Regions from separate parts of the Homo sapiens genome. Here region 2 is linked to region 1. Evidence: fine-mapped expression QTL. A gene starts in region 1. The other region holds a variant in brackets. All regions are shown on one strand. Distances are from middle to middle.

Region 1 (10,317 bases):
ACATTTTGCTCACTTCTGCTTGCCAGCATAATGTCATAAAACCCCTGACTCTGTGACAACATGCAACTCTTGGGAGGGATGAGTTGAAGACAGAGCAGGATAGAGCACATGGTCCCCCACATCTCTTGCCTGAGCTATTACATTCCTTAAATGATAAATGCCCCAGCTTTGCCTTTTCCTACACATAAGATAACATCTAACAGGGTTGTGATTATGCGTTTATAAACTATTACCAAAGGTACATTCATAATCTATAACCAGATGTACTCTTACACCCAAACTTTGATGTGACCGTGCATGTACTGAGTCTCTACTACCTGTACATGAACTGTGAACTGAAATACTCAGCCTATAGTCCTCGGTAAGACTTCTGAATAAAATGAACTTTAATTCTTTAAAAGCTTGACTTTTTTCTTTGGTCATCATTTCCTATAAGCACAAAACTCAATCAAAAACTTAAAAAGCACACACCCACAGCATGGTTTTCCTTTGTCCCTATTCACTTAGAGGAAACTAACATTAGTTGCACTCACTGAGTTCCAGCTGAGCTAGGAAATGCCCTTCTCACTGGTTGATTCACTCACTCCAATTCTTCTCCATCTCAATTCCACAGGCTCTTATTATTTTTTTTTTAATTTTTTTTTTTTTTGAGATGGAGTCTCACTCTGTTGCCCAGGCTAGAGTGCAGTGGGGCGATCTCGGCTCACTGCAACCTCCACCTCCTGGGTTCAAGCAATTCTCCTGTCTCAGCCTCCTGAGTAGCTGGGACTACAGTCACGTGCCACCATGCCTGGCTAATTTTTGTATTTTTAGTACAGACAGGGTTTCACCATGTTGGCCAGGCTGGTCTCAAACTCCTGACCTCAGGTGATCCTCCCACCTCAGCCTCCCAAAGTGCTGGGATTACAGGCGTGAGCCACCATGCCTGGCATTATTATTGTTATTATTATTATTTAAAAATCCCAAGTCTGGCCAGACTGCTCTTTCTTGCTCAAACACCTCTGATGACTGCCCACTGACTAAGTCCTTGACAAGTGCCCTTCCTTTCTATCTTAGGCCTGCCTCCTCAGATCCACTGTCTCCTATTAGACCTCACTTCACCCCAGGCTCAAGCCACATCAAGAAGCTGTCTGTTGTTCCCCAGGAACATGCCATTCACTCTGCTCTTCCTGTGACTATACCTAGAACACCTCCATCTCTGTTGTTCACCATAAGAATTAACACTTCTTAGGGCCCACCTTAGGCCAGGTGCGGTGGCTCACACCTGTAATCCCAGCATTTGAGAGGCCTGGCCAACATGGTGGACGGATTGCTTGAGCTCAGGAGCTCAACATCAGCCTGGGCAACATGGTGAAACCCCATCTCTACTAAAAATAGAAAAAAATAGCTAGGCGTGGTGGCACATGCCTGTGCCCCAGCTCCTCAGGGGGCTGAGGCGAAAGGATCTCTTGAGCCTGGGAAGTTGAGGCAGCAGTGAACTCTGATCATGCCACTGTACTTTCAGCCTCGATGACAGAGTGAAACCCTGTCTCAAAAAAAAAGCCCCAACTTAGATTTAGCCTGAAAGTTCCTTTCAGTAACGCCCTTTCTTCTGCTATCCACACTCCATGTATGGCAGAATTAACCATTCTTCTTTCTAGGCTCTCATAACATTAGTATGGATAGAGGGAAGCCAGAAGAAAATGATTTAAAAAAAGAAAAAAAAAAACAGTCTTATAACATTCTGGACATCCTTTTCTTAAGGGATATCCAAATTATTGGAACCTTTTTTTTCCCATATTTTTTCACTCCCAAAGGGCAGACAAGAGAAAGCCATTTCCCTGATTTTTTTATACTACCCTAACACATCCCATGCTTAGCCTGCTCTAGAGAAGGGACTCATTAAACCTCTAGTTAATAGAACTGAATTGGGCAAGTCACAACTTCTGAGACCGTTTCTTCATTTGCAACATGCTGAGATTCTCAAGATTCTGTATGAGGTTGTTGCGGGGATTAAATGGATAAATAAGGGGTAATGTGTACTAGAAGCCAGAGAGCACTGTATGGGTACATGGCAATATTGTTCCTTTAGCAGAGAAGCCACTTTATCTTCTTTTGTAACACACAGAACGAAGGACTACATGTTTAAAAGGCAGTTGGAGGACTAACAAGCTTCCACTGCACTGTGAGCCAAGGATTTGGCAAAAAGCACAAAATAAAACACATGGATATGTTGTCTACACTCCAAGCCAGTCATATTCATTTCATACTATATCCTATTGACGTCTAGAATCCAGTTGGACTTTCTAGGGATTATTATCTTTGAATCTGTGTCATTAGCTATAAATCTTAACACCATATAAAAGGCTATGCCTAGAAGGAATAGGCCCTATTAATCAGAATTCCTCCCTTGCATAAACATTGGCGCTAGAGTCCATAAGAAATTAAAGTCAAAAGAGGGAATATGGAGCGGGGCCGGGGCTGGGCGTGGTGGCTCACGCCTGTTATCCCAGCACTTTGGGAGGCCAAGGTAAGCAGATCACCTGAGGTCAGGAGATCGAAGCCAGACTGCCCAACATGGCAAAAACCTGTCTCTACTAAAAATACAAAAATTCGGCCGGGCACGGTGACTCACGCCTGTAATCCCAGCACTTCGGGAGGCGGAGGCGGGCAGATCATGAGGTCAGGAGATGGAGACCATCCTGGCTAACACGGTGAAACCCCGTCTCTACTAAAACAATACAAAAAAAAAAATTAGCTGGGCGTAGTGGCGGGTACCTGTAGTCCCAGCTACTTGGGAGGCTGAGGCAGGAGAATGGCGTGAACTCAGGAGGCGGAGCTTGCAGTGAGCCGAGATCGCGCCACTGCACTCCAGCCTGGGCGAGAGTGCGAGACTCCATCTCAAAAAAAAAAAAAAAAAAAAAATTACCCGGACGTGGTGGTAGGCGCCTGTAATCCCAGCTACTCGGGAGGCTGAGGCAGGAGAATCAATTGAACCCGGGAGGCAGAGGTTGCAGTGAGCCAAGATCACAACATTGCACTCCAGCCTGGGCAACAAGAGCGAAACCCTGTCTCGAAAGGAAAAAAAAAAAAAAAAAAAAAAGGAAGGGGGGTCGGGAATCAAAACGTCCTAATTCTAAAATGTGAATAAAACCTCGAGAAAATAGTTACTGTCTTAACACAGACCTATTGCAGTAACATTTGAATCTCAGTTATTCAGTGCACTCCTTTGTTTCAGTTGCAGAAACCAAATAAAGATTAATCAGACTACATGGTAAGAAAAGTAATTCTCAGAAGATCAACTACTTTTAGGTGAATTACCTCCCAAGAAGATGTTCTTTTTGACTGGATTTTTTTTCCTGGTATCAGGCATTCTATAAGAAGTATTCTATTGGCTGGAGTTCTATACACCATCTGTCCTATATGCAGATTTTTACATTTTATATACTATAAAATAAAATAATTCAAAAGGCTTTTAAAAAACAAACAAACAAAAAAACAGAGGTCCTAAGGATTTAAAAATGTCTTACCTCTTTGGGGAAAAACGGTCCAAGTATAGAATAGCACATCATGGAACCTAAGTTCACCGAAGCTGCCGATATCAGTACAAAAACCTGTTCTCTCGAAAGCCACCCGGGGGTCTCTCCTGCACTTCCTGCAGGATCATCACCTTGAATGCAAACATGCAGCAATTAGGCATATAATTGAGACTACTGATTAAAGTACACAAATGTGATTTCTGTGCACATATGTTGCACTCTGAAGATATCATTTGCTAAGCTTAGGGCTATTTTGAATATAGCACATTTGATCAAATGGAACACAATCCTTGTACATTACTGCCGTTTTGAAAACGTACTGCTTTCGGCTGGGCACGGTGGCTCACGCCTGTAATCCCAGAACTTTGGGAGGCCGAGGCAGGCGGATCACGAGGTCAGGAGATCGAGACCATCCTGGCTAACACGGTGAAACCCCGTCTCTACTAAAAATACAAAAAATTAGCCGGGCGTGGTGGCGGGCCCCTGTATCCCAGCTACTCGGGAGGCTGAGGCAGGAGAATGGCGTGAACCCGGGAGGCGGAGCTTGCAGTGAGCCAAGATCGCACCACTGCACTCCAGCCTGGGCTACAGAGAGAGACTCCGTCTCAAAAAAGCAAAACAAAACAAACAAACAAAAACAAAAACAAAAACAAAAAACAAAGATTTCTAAGGCAGTATTGAAGTCAAATGAAGTGTAAGTAGGAGAAAACAAGCTAAATCATTCAGCTGGTGAATTAATATTTACAGCGGTATGCTTCTGGATAGACAAGTCCCACAAATTCATAAATAAATACTTTTTTTTTACCCTAATTACTGGTCTTTTACATCAGTTAATTTAACACTTATTTCCAGGGCTAAATTGTCATTTAAAAACACGAAATCAATTACTGAGTTCCAAATATCCAAGCAAATCCATCAGCCATTTATAAATTAAATTGTTTTTAGGAAAAACTTAAGAGAAATACATTTGCTTTGCTCTATTTGTCAGAGGTTGCCATTGCAGTCCAGAAGGAAAAAAAAAATCAGTGCAACATGAGGAAGTCTTACGAATCTTTGTAAAATGTTTGTAGTAGATGAGAAAGGGAAATGAAAGTTAAAAAGAAAGGCAACAACAATGGGTACTTGAAAGGTAACGTTTTACATTTGCCTAATGGCATACTTATTTGAATGCATTAAACACACAGTACTTAAAAAGCAGAGGTATAGGTTAGAAAGTCATTAGAAACCGTGACACATATCCAATCCTGGAACTTTACCCCGTCCAGAGAGAAAAGAAACGCTGGCCCGAACCCCACGATCAGGCCCCAGCCTTTTCCAATCTCTCGGAAACAGATCAAGCTATAAGCAATTCAATCGTTGCTAAAGAGACACGCCGGAAGCCGCCGCTGGTCTCCGGGCTCCCGGCCACGCAATTCATGGTCACCTCCTGGTGCGCGTGGTCCCTCCAGGTCACCCAGCGCCTCCATCCCCGGTGCGTGGACTCCGGCGCCCCAGCTCCCGGCTTCAAGCCACGTCCTTGGACTCGACCTCCAAGGAGCCACTGGCACTCTGGCGGGCGGCCGCTGCTCAGCTGGAACCTGGCATCCCCGACTCCCTGCAGGCAGCGATCCGCCCGGCCCGGAGCTCCCCAAAGCCTTCCAGGACTCTGGGTCCCCGGGAGGAGGCCGGGGGCGGGGCAGGGGTGGAGCAAGGCTCCTTTTTTTTTTGTTTTGCGCCCCCCCCCCGCCTCATTATCTTAATCCACCACCTCAGCTGCTATATCATGGTGTCCTTTTTCATTCTGTGACAGAGAGTGAAAAAAGATGAGTCTATATTCCATACAGCTGTACCCCCCTCAATCTTAAAATAAGTTCAATTTATTCCTACGAAACGAAAGAAAGGAAGCTTATGTAGACACAGAAAAGGCAGGGAGTACCTCAACTGAAAGACACAAAAGTGAATTAGAAAATTAGGTTATACAGGAACTTTGAAAGAGTGAATTATTTTTCACAGTGGGTAAATGCGGTAGTGTTCGTAATTACTGAAGCCAGACACTATTGAACCGGAAATGAATTAACCTATGTGAAGCACCTGGAGTCGAAAAATATTTGCAAGAATACTAATGAATATCGAGGAAGCATGGCGAAGTGGCTAGGAGTGCGACCTCTGGAGGCAGGTGCCAGGGATTCAAGCCAGGGCACTTGCTGGCAGTGTGTAACTTTGGATGACAAGGTCAGTTTCTCTACCTGTACAACTGAGATTATAATGTTTATCTCGTAGGGCGGCTGTGAGCATTGGCGATAAAGTGTGTTAGTAGTTAGCACATGAACATGATGGCTGCTACCTTACTCTCACACTCACAGTTTTCTTGCATAAAAAATAGGTTTCACTTATTTTCACCGTATTTACTATTTGGGAAGTGTTAAAGCTCGAGGACTGGCTGGACACGGTGGCTCATGCCTGTAATCCCAGCAGTTTGGGAGGCCGAGGTGGGCAGCTCACCTGAGGTCAGGAGTTCTAGACCAGCCCGGCCAACATGGTGAAACCCTGTCTCTACTATAAAAATACAAAAAAATCAGCCAGGCGTGGTGGCAGGCACCTGTAATCCCAGCTACTAGGGAGGCTGAGGCAGGAGAATCGTTTGAACCTGGGAGGCGGAGGTTACAGTGAGCCAAGATCCAAAAGAATTGTGTGAGGGTAGCTTTATCGACTGAGAATCTGCCTCAGATCCACTGTACAAGGTCAGTTCCAGTACACAGTATGGCTGATAGTAAGTTTGTAATTACTGTGCCACCTCATTCCAGCCTGGGTGAAAAAGCGAAACTCTGTCTCAAATAAATAAATAAAGTTTAAGGACTGGGAAATTCTTGTTTTGAAGCCAAAGCAAAACAAAAGACTGAGTTACCACTTTGTGCCAGGCATTATGAATTTAAAGAGGAATGAGCCCCATCCAGACTCTGCCCTCAAGTAGCACACCTTCTAGCAGATGAAATTCACACTAATTAATAATCTACTATAATGCAATCGGTTGTATACAAACATATTGGAAGAACCATTTACTTTGGCAAATGGGTCCTGGATGACTTCCTGAGGAAGTGATGTTACCTTGGTTCTTGAAGGTTATGTAAAAACTCCCCAGTGAGGGCCGGGCGCGGTGGCTCACGCCTGTAATCCCAGCACTTTGGGAGGCCGAGGTGGGCGGGTCACGAGGTCAGAAGTTCGAGACCTGCCTGACCAACACGGTGAAACCCCGTCTCTACAAAAATACAAAAATTAGCTGGGCATGATGGCACCCAGCTACTCAGGAGACTGAGGCAGGAGAATCGCTTGAACCTGGGACTCGGAGGTTGCAGTGAGCAGAGATCATGCCATTGCACTCCAGCCTGGGCAACCGAGCGAGACTCCATCTCAAAAAAAAAAAAAAAAAAATTCCCCAGTGGGCAAGTTGTAAAGGAGAACCTAGAGAACCACTCTGAACAGAAAGTTCCACTCTAAGCCAGGTGCTGTGGCTCACGCCTGTAATCCTAGCACTTTGGGAGGCCGAGGCAGGCAAATCACCTGAGGTCGAGAGTTTGAGACCAGGCTGACCAACATGGAGAAACCCTGTCTCTACTAAAAATACAAAATTAGCTGGGCATGGTGGCGCATGCCTGTAGTCCCAGCTACTCGGGAAGCTGAGGCAGGAGAATCGCTTGAACCTAGGAGGCAGAGGTTGTGGTGAGCCAAGACAGCACCATTGTGCTCCAGCCTGGGCAACAAGAGTGAAACTCCATCTCAAAAAAAAAAAAAAAAAAAAAAAAAGAAAAGAAAAGAAAGTTCCAATCTAGCAAAGTTTCCCTAAAGTAGCCTTATGAAATCTTTATGATCTAACCCCTGACAGCTTCTCCAATCTCATTTAACTCTATGCTTTCTCTTCAATCTAACATCAATCTGTAGAGGGAAATTTTCTTGAATGATTTCTTTGATGATTACATTTCCTCTTTTATTTTCTTTCTGGACTGCACTTTATGTGAATGTTGGGTCACCCAAACTGGTCCTTTTACTTATTTCTCTTTTTCTTCTCTCTTTTATTTTATTTTATTTTTTTTAGACAGGGTCTCACTCTGTTTCCCAAGCTACCATGACATATAATGGCTCACTGCAACCTCAAATTCCTGAGCTCAACTGATCCTCCCACCTCAGCCTCCCGAGTAGGTGGGACTATAGGCCTGTGCCACCACACCTGGCTAGTTATTATTTTTTCTTTTTTTTTCCTCCATGTTATAGGAAGTATCCCTAACTGTATCTTGCCATCTGAATTTTTGCCAACTGAATCTTGCCAACTGTATCTTGCCAATTGAATGTTTCATTTCTGTTGCCATCTATTTCCTTGTATCTCCATTCTCATTCCTCTCCCCATTTGCAATAATTCTTGCATGTTTAATGCAAATCTTGTTCTTTATGTTCTCAAAAAAATCTATGTTCTTATGTGTCCATCTACTTTTAATTTACATAAAGTCTATTCATATCCCTATCCTCCGCTCCTCTTGTAATCTCTACCTCTCATTCTCCCTTCAGATAATCAGTTTTATAATCAAATATATTATTGTGTTAGTTTTCTGGGGCTGCTGTACAAATCAACACAAATTTGATAGCTTAAAACAAGGTCCTCAAAGCCAGAAGTTCAACATCAGTTTCACTGAGCCAAAATCAAGGTGTCAGCAGGATCATGTTCCCTCTAGAAGCTCTAGGGAAGAGTCTGTTTCTTGCCCCTTGAAGCTTCTAGTGACTATTGGCATTTTGTGCCACATCACTGTAGTCTCTGTTTCTGTGATCACTGTGCCTCTTCTTTTCTGTGTGTAATCTTCGTTTGCCAGTCTCTTGTAAGGATATTTTGAATGAATTTAGGGCCCACCTGGATAATCCAGGATGACCTCTTCATCTCAAGTTCTCCAATTTAGTCACATCTGCACAGACCCTTTTTTTCATATAAGGTAACATTTACAGGTTCCAGGGATTAGGATGTGGACGTATCTTTGGAATCCATTATCAGCCTACCACAATTATCTATTCATAGTTTGATATGCTCATTTAGACATTCATACACATATGGAATATTTGTTTCTTTACAAACTAAAATGGAGTAATATGGTCTTTGTTTAAATGCCACCTCCTCAGAGAAATTCATTCTTTTTTATTATTTATTTATTTAATAATAGAGATGAGGTTTCACCATGTTGCCCAGGCTGGTGTCAATCTCCTGGACTCAAGCAATCCATCTGCCCTGGTTCCCCAAAGTGCTGGGATTACTGCCGTAAGCCACCATACCTGGCCAAGAAATTCATTCATTTTTTTTTTTTTTTTTTTTTTTGAGATGGAGTTTCACTCTTGTTGCCCAGGCTGGAGCACAATAGTGCTATCTTGGCTCACCACAACCTCCACCTCCTAGGTTCAAGCGATTCTCTTGCCTCAGCTTCCTGAGTAGCTGGGACTACAGGCATGCGCCACCATGCCCAGTTAATTTTGTATTTTTAGTAGAGACAGGGTTTCTCCATGTTGGTCAGCCTGGTCTCAAACTCTCAACCTCAGGTGATCCTCCCGCCTCGGCCTCCCAAAGTGCTGGGATTACAGGCGTGATCCACCGCGCCCGGCTAAGAAGTTCATTCTTATGCCCTTATCCAAATACAGCCCTAGTCCTCCTTTGTCCTTTCACCTTTCTATTTTTCTTCCTGGCATTTCTATCAGTCAGAGTTCCCTGTTGCTAATAAAAAACAAAGCAACGTTGGCTAATTTAAGCAGAAAATGAATTCATCATTGATTATTAGGTAACACATAGTATCATCAGGAGGATCATGCATACCACTTAGAGGCTAAGTGCCTAAAGTCACACCACCTAAGCGGTCCAGTATGCATGGCACTGCAACCCTGCTGGACGTACATCTCCAGCACATGCTGCCAATACCACTGGAGCCAGGTATGAGACACTGTAATTAGAACATCATCCCCACTCCTCAAGAATGCTGCCACTCTCACCAGAAGAGATTTTAGGTGGTGCTAGCTTCTTCCACTCACTTGCTTCCATTGCATATCAAGACCCAATGTGTTTGAAGTCAGGCAGTAAAAAGTGTCCAAGTACGTTCTTCTTTTTCAAGAGTGGTTTGAATATTTTAGTTACTTTGACTTTCTAGAGAAATATCACAATTAGCTCTCATATTCTCCAAACAACCTGGTGGAATTCTTACTGGTATTTTTTTTACTCCATATATCAATTTGGAGAGAACTGATATTGAATCACTATTAAGCTTTTAATCCATGAACATAGTATATCTCTCCAATTATATAGATATTTCTTTCATAACATTTTCACATTTTTCACCGTGTAGGTATTATATGCCTCATGTTAAATTTATTCCTAAATACCTTAGTTTTAGAAGCTACTAAAATTGATATTTTTATGTTTAAATTTCCAACAATTTGCTGATTATATATAAAGGTAAATGAACTTTTATATTAATCTGGTATCCTGCAATCTTGCTAAATTTCCTCATTAGTTCTAGTCATTGTTGTATAGATTCCTTTAGATTTTCTACATAAACAATTATGCCATCTGCGAATAGAGTTTTACTTCTTCCTTTCTGAAATGTATGCTTTTGTTTCTTTCACTTATTTTATTGCACTGACTAGGACGCCCAGTAAAATGGTGAATAAATGTGGTGAGAATGGAGAGCCTCACTTTGTTCCCAATCTTACAAGAAAAACACTTGGTCTTCCATTATAAAGTATGAGGTTAGCTGTAGGTTTTTCACATGTGCCTTTCAGAAGATTAAGGATGCTACCTTCT
Region 2 (10,317 bases), 210 kb before region 1:
TAGTTTTATTGTACCTGTCAGCAGATCTTGTTATCTGATGCTTTCAAAAAGAAGCACATGTATGATTATATTACAAATTTGACTATTTCTAAGATAGTTATATAATTATATTTTAACAATTGTTTTTCTTTATAATTCCATGTTTTTTTAAAAAAACTTTATTCCCTCAAAAGTTTTCATCATGAGTAGGGGTCTGTGGTCTTTACTAGAGTGTCAAAAACGTCCATGGCACAAAAAATCGATAACACTTGCCTTACATGTGGTTAACTCTCACTCAACTAGGGAGAGCGAGTAAGGGTTATTATCACCACAGACATTCTACTAAGATCTCAAGAGAATGTCATTGAGTATATGCTTTCATTTGTCCAAGGGCCTAACCCAATTTTCTGGGGGCAACAGATTTGCTTCTTACATTCTGTTCTCCTAACGAAGAGGATGAAAGAGCTGGGCTTCAAATCCTGGGGTCGGGTGCCTCCCCTCTCCAACCATCAGCTCATGCTTCCGTTTGTGGTGTCCACTGAAGGTGCGATTCTTTTTCTCATTCTCCCCTGGTTCTTTGGTGATGCAAACATTGTATCATGACACACATGTCCTTGTGTTTCTGTGATTCACTGGAAACTGGAGTCTCCTATCTGGTTTTCAGTGTTAGTCCTATTCACAGATTTATTAGCTGTCCAGATTTCCCTAATATTTCAGAGAAATAGTAGATAGGTTAACAGCTTTCAAGTAAGAAGATAGATTAAGAATTTTCAAGTAAGGATGCCAAGGTAAATTACCAGATCTTTGCGTGCCTCATCTGTGTGCCCTGTAAGGGTAATAATATCCACCTCACAGGTTTATAGGCATTAAGTGAGATGCAGAACATCATAGGTTCTCAGTAACTGTTAGCTCCTTCCCTTCTCTTCATTGAGGGCCTATCTGGCTAAGGCAGCCTTCTCCACCTAACAGGAAACAATAATATGTGCAAGAAGCAGAATCATTTCTTGCTTCTGTTGAAGTGACTAGTTCAGAGCTCCACCTTGTGAAGCAGCCGGATCTTTTACTTCCAAGATGGAGACTGCTATGCTCAGTTGATTGGGAATGGGGTGGCTTATTTCTAGAAAGGCAAGAGAAAAATATGCTTTTTAAAGTAATGACTCACTTATAGGTTGCAAATTATATTTATTGTTATACAAAAGGCATAGTATTTCTAGCTTCTTAATAACTCAAAACTATATATACTAGGATAAGTTTTAGTTTATAATTCATCTGTAATTTAATTATTTAATAATGCCTAAGAGTTAACAAAAAATAAACTATAATTAATTCCAAAGAAAAATGAAGCACTAAAGAATACGTGGAAAAATATTTTTACAACAATTATTTTTAAATAAGGAGGAAAGTTTGGGGTTAATAGCACTTCTCTCTCTCTCCATATATCTATATATAAATAAACAGAATAAACCCATTTTAGCTAACTTCATTGACAAAATAAGATATTTACTCCTTCAATTATTATTATTATTATTACCATTATTATTATTATTATCACTTTGAGACAGAGTTTCACTCTTTTTGCCCAGGCTGGAGTGCAATGGCACAATCTTGGCTCACCACAACCTCTGCCTCCCGGGTTCAAGCGGTTCTCCTGCCTCAGCCTCCCGAGTAGCTGGGATTACAAGCATGTGCCACCACGCCCAGCAAATTTTGTATTTTTAGTAGAGACAGGGTTTCTCCATGTTGATCAGGCTGGTCTTGAACTCCTGACCTCAGGTGATCCGTCCGCCTTGGCCTCCCAAAGTGCTGGGATTAAAGGCGTGAGCCACCGCGCCCGGCCACTCCTTTAGTGATTATTATTGACATGTGAATGATTGTTTTAAGTATTTGTTTAACGTCTACTTATCTGACTATTGGCATATGAATTGCTCTTGAAACACATTCCCTCCTTCATTGTCTAAGTTTACCTATTGAGATTGATACACCTGTATCTGCATCTATAGCTACAGCTATCTGTGCACCTGTAGTGGAGAGGCTTTGAGGCTTTGAACTAATTTATAAAGAAGTTTTTCAAGTAAGCAATTATTAATTTGAAAAAATCTCAGTAATAAATATAAAGGAATGGTGATTAGAGGCTTTAGGAAAATATTCAGGAGAAGACAGGCAGGCTGTACATAAAGGTGCTAGTGCCCTTACTAGTAATTGCTGCTGAGAAACATTTGGTTCAATTCCGAGCAAGCACGTGGCATGGGGACTTGTTTTTATAAAAAGCAAAAACAAAAACAAAAACATGTACTGGTGTTCCTGGAAAGATAGCCGGTCTAACTTGTGTGAGAAAAATTTAAAGAAAGAAATAATAAAACGGAAAGATGTGGATAATTATCACTTAACAAAATATTCCAACTATGTTCAGGTTTAAATTATTCAAAAAGATAAGAAAAAACATTCCTTCAAGAATATGATGCTTTTACTCAGTGATTATCACAATGGACAAACCTGGATGACAAATCTGCTTAGTGCTTGGGTTTTTAGGAGACGAGGTTTCTAAAATGAACATTTTGAGGAAGAGACATTCTAAACAATTGATTATGATTATGAAATATGAAGCGAAATTATGATTCAAACTAGGTTTCCTGAAGTTAGATTATGCCATATTTCACTTAAGAACACAGTAGAAAGGAAATATTACAAACACCTTATTTTAGATGAGGAAACTCCCATCTGTGGTGGGAGGAGGGAGGATTCAAAGATTGCTGAAATCTCTCTTGGCTGCTCTGTGTGGCAGAACCAGTGTGAGAACTCAGAAAGCCAGACCTCAGGGCTCTGTTCCTTCCGTTGTTGCATCCTAGTTGTTTCAAGGAAGCAATGAATGAGGAACCAAATATGTGCACAGTGTTCTGGCTTATCCAGTGGATATTAAGATGATTTCTTGCTCTCCTTTTCCTCCAATGTACTATAAAAAATAACACTTTTACACTGTTGGTGGGACTGTAAACTAGTTCAACCATTGTGGAAGTCAGTGTGGCGATTCCTCAGGGATCTAGAACTAGAAATACCATTTGACTCAGCCATCCCATTACTGGGTATATACCCAAAGGAATATAAATCATGCTGCTACAAAGACACATGCACACGTATGTTTATTGCAGCACTATTCACAAGAGCAAAGACTTGGAACCAACCCAAATGTCCAACAATGACAGACTGGATTAAGAAAATGTGGCACATATACACCATGGAATACTATGCAGCCATAAAAAAGGATGAGATCATGTCCTTTGTAGGGACATGGATGAAGCTGGAAACCATCATTCTCAGCAAACTATCGCAAGGACAAAAAACGAAACACCGCATGTTCTTACTCATAGGTGGGAATTGAACAATGAGAACACTTGGACACAGGAAGGGGAACATCACACACCGCGGCCTGTTGTGGGGTGGGGGGAGGGGGGAGGGATAGCATTAGGAGATATACCTAATGTAAATGACGTTAATGGGTGCAGTGCACCAACATGGCACATGCATACGTATGTAACAAACCTGCACGTTGTGCACATGTACCCTAGAACTTAAAGTATAATAAATATATATATACGTATATATATATATACGTGTATATACATACATATATATAAAACATTGAATGTGGGGAGTGCTTTATCCCTTTCCAAGTTAAGGAGCTTGTCTTTCTCTTCTACTTAACCCATGCTGTCCTGGAAGCATGCCCACAAACTCAACACCACACAGCCCACGGTCACAGTGCCACTTATCTTTCCTGTGAGGTCCTACTCCTTGCCTGCATTTAGTAGAAGGAATCATTCTTGGTACAAATCAACAGTGCGTGTCTGCGGTGAGAAGACCTTCTGGCTCAGTGTGAGTTTCAGTGCCTTCCGAAACCACTGGTAGGAAAAGACATAGATGATGGGGTTGCAGGCTGAGTTGAAGTAAGCAAACCAGATAAAGATGTCAAAGACCAGTGGGGGTGTGATAAAGTGAAGGAGGCTGTCGACCATCGTGTCTATGGTGAAGGGCAGCCAGCACAAGAGGTATATGCCCACAGCAATGCCCAGGGTCTTGGCAGCTTTTCTCTCATGCTTGGCAGCCCCAGCCAGGCTTTTGCTCAATGTGGTAATCTGCTGAGCCTGTCTGGTAGCAACCACAAAGATCTTCACATACAAGCTGATCATAATGAGGCAGGGGACAAAGAACAAAGGGAAGTTTAACCAGCCCCAAAATTTATTGAGCAGCAGCTGGCAACTGCCCACACAAGGCATCTCTTCCAGCCACTGGCTGAGCCTTGTCTCTACCACATCTGTGTAGAGGAATAACGAAGTGTATGCTGCGGGCACCCCCCATCCTGCCAGGATGTACCTGAGAGCCACCCTCACTGTGAACTTGGAGGGATAGAGCAGGGGGTCACAGATGGCACAGTGGCGGTCAATGGAAATGAAACAGAGATGGAAGATGGAGGTGAGGCAGAAGAGGGTGTCCAGGTAGGTGTGCAGGCGGCAGAGGAAGTCCCCGAAGAACCAGCAGCTCTCCACTGAGCGAATGGTGCTGAGGGGCAGCACCAGCAGACCCAGAAACATGTCAGCCAGGGCCAGGGAGAGCAGCAGGAAGTTGGTGGGCGTGTGAAGCGCTTTGAAGTAGGACACAGCAAATGCCACAAATACATTCCCTAGCACGATAATCAGCATGCCTGCTGCACAGGCCAGGTAGATGACCAACTGGATGCCCAGAGTATGTACTGTCCTGGGGCAAGACCCATTCACCTGGTAGCAGAATGCCGCAGGGTGCTCTTCAGCACCTTGGATGAAGACAGCTCTCATTTATGATTTCTACTCTTCCTCTGTCTGAGAACTGGCCACCTTCTCCACTGGAGGGCAAAAAAAAAAAAAAAAAAAAAAAAAAAAAAAAAATATGTCTGCTAAATAATCACAGAGTGAAACGAAGAGGAAGAAACTAAAGTACAGTTTGGAACATAGTACAGTGCCCCTGGGTACTGAATCAAATGTGCCCTGAAAATCAAATGCAGCATAGTATTCAAGGTTTCATGAGAGTTACTTCTGCTAGCTCTAGTTTATATGACTAGGCACTTTAAAACTAGTGTAGGTAGTATTCTTAAAGAAAGAAAAGAAGGATGTAAGCTGAATGTTTCCTCAAAGAAAGCTTGATTATATCCATAGGTAGTATTAAATAATAGAGAATGTCTCTTACGTTTTGATAAGGTATTTTTTG[T/C]CAAATGTAAAGTGAAATTTAAAGCAAAGATCTGAACCAAGTGACCAATTAATTCTTGTTAATAAATTATTCCTTGGAAAAAGTGTAACTTCTAGCTTCTCTCTTTAAGAATTACATACATTGACAATAAAGTTAGCAGATTAAGATTTTTAGCTACATGCCAACTCTTCCCAAGAGAAGAATTCAGCATGCAAATATTAATAATTAAAAGAGTAGAAAATTGCTCTATTTTAGCTTTAAATGCTGCACATTTTATGATGATAACACAAAGTGTTTACACATCTTGGTATAACTATTTGATAGGCAAAATGATTTTATCTATTTAACATCTTAATGTAAGTCTGTGAATTATTAACCAAGTCCTAATATATTGAATTCAGAGTTTCTAAGTTACTTACACAGGTAGGAATCAGAATCCCTTCCTGGGAAAAAATGTTTCTTGGAGCAGGTGGACACAGGGAATGTCAGAGTACTCTTCTGTTGGCCACAATGACAGGTGTGCAATTAGTTAACGATTTTATACTCTCAATAGAAACTACTCCTCCATGTGCTATGATACAAATAAGCTGTGAAGAGGCACCATGGGACCTAGTTTGCACTATTTGCAAGTCTCAGTTGTTTAAGGTTCCTCCTCAATACAGAATCACTTACCCTGACAATTAATTAGAGATAAAATTTAAAGACGGTGGATGTATATATTCTTTTTTAATTTTTCAGTTCTGGGATGTTTTGAAGGTATTCTTGCCTGCTAATGGCTGCTATATATTTTCTAATTTCATTTTTAGTGAGTTTCTTATTTTTCTTCTGCTTTAGTATTATTTGTGTATATTTCTCTCAACATGAGAAATAGTTGAGAATAATTGATCATGGGTTTTTTGGTTCATGAAGGGGTGGTTTGTGACTTCCACACAGGATTCATCATTATGTGTTTTTTGAGCACTATATTTTGTGATGGTGAAAGAAAGCATGGTAGATGAAGCAGTTCACCTGGAGGAAGAATAGTTAAATTCCTGTTTCATCCTTTCTTATGCCATACCTAACCTCTCTCTCTGCTTCCCCATTGGTAAGAGTAGGTACAATTATACCTGTGTAACTTGATTTCACAGGGATATTATCAAGGTAAATAACATGTTGAATCGTATTCTGCTCTCTGCCTCTTGATATCTTAGAAGCTGGTATGCCTCTTTATGGTTACAGAGAAACCATTTCACAGTATCAGTCAAACTAAAGTTGTAAAAATGACAGAATTCTAGAGGTGACACCAAATTACATCTGCCAGAGGGGCCTGGAAGAGGAGGTGGGGCAGGTCAAAAAGAAGGAAGGAGGTTGGTATGCACCTCTCCTTTCTCTACAAATCCATGGCTAAACCCAGTGTTTCCCAAGGCAAAGCTCCCTATAGCCTGGCTACCGCTGGAATCTTGCCTTATGCCAGCTTCATATGTGTGGAAATACATATCTGGCTCCAGAACTTAATCAGACACAAGGAAGGATATTGCATTACTAGGTACCTTGAAACCCCTTTAGCTTAAAAGTCATAATCCACATATAATTGGCCAAGGAGTCCTATGGCTTTATATTTAATTTGACCAAGAACTTGTGAAAAATACAAACAAATGTCCTGTAGCTGGAATAAGGCTGAAGAAGAAACAGGGAAAGGTTTTCTGTTCTGGGATAGATTACATCAGACCTACTAAAATGTAATATGTAACACAATTGTATGATCTCTATGTCTCAGATTACTTAACACCACTGTGTCCAGTTTTCTCATCTATTAATTGAATATAATACATGATCTGTGTCACAATCTTGTGAATATTAATGAGTTAAAATTCATAAAGTGCAGTCTCTGGCATGTAGAAAGTTGAGTTGGGCAGACAAGAGTTCGAGTGGATATCTAGTGCAGATAACTGTTAACCTTCCCAAGTTAGGGCTCTTATCCCTTCTTCCACTGACTTTTAGAAATACATTCCATTACATAACAATCACAGGCAAAAGTAATTGGATTCTGGATCTACTAAGGTTTCCTGCTTACCTTAGGGATTCATTAATGTTGCAGCAAGCTGCTAAAGGTCTTGAATAAAAGAACATTTTTATTTCTTTTAAATCTCCCCGCTGCATCATGTGTAGCCTCCTCTGCACTTTACTTACTAGAAACCAAATTTGTTTTCAAATTACCGCCAACTTTAACAAAATCGATTATAATGAGGCTGTGCTAATTATGATAACCTGAAATTATGAAGCCAGATGGAAGTGTTCTTAGTACAAGCTCAAACTGGCAGACTTCACTCAGGTTCAGAGATTCTCTTTCTATAGCCTGTTGTCTATGGACGGTCTTTGCCTGCCTTTGAGAGCACATAGGACAGAATAATTCTTGATTCCTCAAAATCTGTCTGATATGATTTGGGTCTGTGTCCCCGTGTAAATCTCATGTCAAATTGTAATCCTCAGTGTTGGAGGTGGGGCCTGGTGGGAGGTGCTTGGATCATGGGGGTAGATTTCCCCTTTGGTGCTGTTCTTTTGATAGTGAATGAGTTATCATGAGATCTAGTTGTTTACAAGTGTGTAGCACCTCCCTTCTGCCTCTTCCTCCTGCTTCAGCCATGTAAGATGTGCCTGCTTTCCCTTTGCCTTCTGCCATAATTGTAAATTCCCTGAGGCCTCCCCAGCCATTCTTCCTGTACAGCCTGCAGAACCATAAGCCAGTTAACTTCTTATTTATAAGTTCTTATTTATAAGTTACACTTGGCCTAGCTCTACTCTGCACCCGGCTCTTCTTCCTCTCTGCTGACATTGCTAAGCAACAGTGGTCCCAGATCTACCACTGAATTCCTGGGTAAGGACCACAGAACAGTAGCTACCCAGGGGCAACAGCTTACCACAGACTTTGCCATATGCCCTGTCTTTGCAATTTCACTTCAGTGGGTGAAAGTACTTGCTCAAACTTGCTTCCTCATGCCGATCTTCAGGAAGTTGGCTTAGTGACCCCTTCTCTGATGCTCTAACTCCACTTCCCCAGCTTTCCCTTGACTCTAATAGAGGCTCTGGTTCCCTTACAAAACCTGATGCTACAGTCTTTGGTCAAAAATGCAGGCAGTCTCTCCACAACCCCATGTCAGGCTAAATTTTCCTCTGCCATGCTCTCATGGCCTCTTGTGCCTGGCTCTGTCACAACACATATTACCCTGTAGTGTAACTGAGTGGCTATGGTCCCTCCTATGAAGTCAAAATTCCCTTGAGGCCAGGGTTTGAGTTTTATTTATCTCTGAACCACAATCAGAGCAACACTTGGCACATAGTAGGTGCTCAATAAATGTTCGTTGAACCGAGTGACTTTTAATACAGACAGCAAGTATCATGGAAATTACCATTCCCCCTGAGATAATGGTTACTCTGCTCAGCTTAGATGAGTCCTGGGAAGAGGAGATTTGGTTTAGGAATGAAAATGGCTGCTTCACTCTCCTTGGCCTAGCCTAGGAAGAGCATTTGGAGCTGTTTTGAAAAACTATTGAGCTAATGTTTGTGGACACCCTTGTAAAGTTCAGTCTGGGAGGATAATGAATATATGTACACACATGAAAGACATGGACGCATCCCCACTATGTGTACACACAGGCTGCATACATACATGGATCTAAAGTGTATATTGGGAGAAAGAAAGCATATTTTCCCAAACTCTTTATTCATTTTTCTCATTTAGTAAGACAGTCCAATTTTATCAAATATTGCAAATCTCACATCAGTTCTTTCTGAAAAGGGGTTTCAGCCAAAATCATTACAATTGGAAGTAACTACAACTGTCTGTGTCTTTCTCCCTTTCCGCATCACTAGCATGCTCCATAACTCAGACTTCCTGTATGCCCAGGCTCTCTCCCACTTCCCTAACAAGCAACAACAATCTCAAGAAAGATTTAGATAAACTCAGATATACATGGCTGTCAATGATTGTGGAAACCAACTTTGCTTTTGCATCTGATGTTTTCAAGTTAAAGTAAGAAAATCTCTATATGATTTAAGCCAAAAGACTAAAATTCTAGATCCCTAATTTGGAATCTCAGGAGTCAGTAAGACTTGGGAGAGATTCTTTTTATTGGAGTTGTCTTTCCCCAAAGCCCAGAAATGGACCGCTTTGGTAGCTTTAGTATACCTGGAAGGCTCATCTATAACTCCTACCTAGATGTTCACTACGCCAACTGGAAGGATCTCCTTATCTGGTCAATTCATGCCCCTACTTGTGTGGAGAAAGGGCATCCAAGATTCCCCACCAGAAAAGAGTCCTATTGAATGATGAACACAGCCTAAGCATGGGCAGAAAACAGGCTTAGGGTGGAAGAGTCAGGGTGGAAGATCATGCCTGTGACAATCATCCTCAATGCCTTGCGAAACCAAGGATAAAGCATGCCATATAAAATGGGATTGAAAGCAGAGTTGAAATAGCCTAGCCAGAGGAAGACATTGTACAGATCTTCAAGGGTTGTAAAATTAATGAAAGGATCTGTGATCGTCAAGACAAAGAAGGGCAGCCAGCACAACACAAACACTCCCATGACTATGCCTAAGGTCCTGGTGGCCTTGCTTTCTGTTTTAGAGGATGCCTTTTTTTTTGCTTTCTGACCCAGCCTGTTTAGTCCTAGAACCTGTGCCAATTTGCATGGCATGCTTCCTGGCTACTGTAAAAATATGTATGTAAATTCCCACCGTGGTTGTCCCTGGGAGAAAGAAAGCTATAAAGGAGGCCAGTACCCCCCCAGAGCTTATTAAATATTAACACACACAAACCTGTGCAATCAATGGCTGCAACAAACTCTTCTGCACCAATTATGTTTAGTTTTGAGAATACCAGGCCAAAGGCAAAAAGGATGGGAATGGACCAACTGATGAGTAGAAAGAGTTCTATGACAGGGATGGTAATTCTGGTGACATATTGCAATGGGTCTCAAACAGCATCGTAACGGTCAACTGAGATGAAGCAGAGGTGAAAAATGGAGGTGGTGCAGAGTATGATGTCACAGCAGCTGTGGACTTTGCAAAAGAGGTCTCCAAAATACCAGCAGGACTCGATGGATGTGATCACACTGAAGGGCATGACCACACAGCTCAGCAAAA

Evidence for each region. PIP is the estimated chance that this variant, and not a neighbour inherited with it, causes the effect.
Region 2: its variant is the best candidate, but not a certain one, in a credible set for the expression of SLC18B1 in esophagus muscle (GTEx, PIP 0.52).

The regions. Positions count from the first base shown.
Region 1 is chr6:132,793,473-132,803,789 of GRCh38, forward strand. SLC18B1 (solute carrier family 18 member B1) reads right to left here and starts at 5,165. Exons shown (of 14, transcript NM_052831.3): 1 at 4,942-5,165; 2 at 3,510-3,649. The coding sequence starts at 4,984. RefSeq lists an enhancer at 3,451-3,951 and a silencer at 5,183-5,232.
Region 2 is chr6:132,584,882-132,595,198 of GRCh38, forward strand. It overlaps TAAR5 (trace amine associated receptor 5), which reads right to left and starts at 4,860. Exons shown (of 1, transcript NM_003967.3): 1 at 3,711-4,860. The coding sequence starts at 4,805. The coding sequence ends at 3,792. It also overlaps the pseudogene TAAR4P. The variant T/C (reference allele first, on the strand shown) is at 5,215.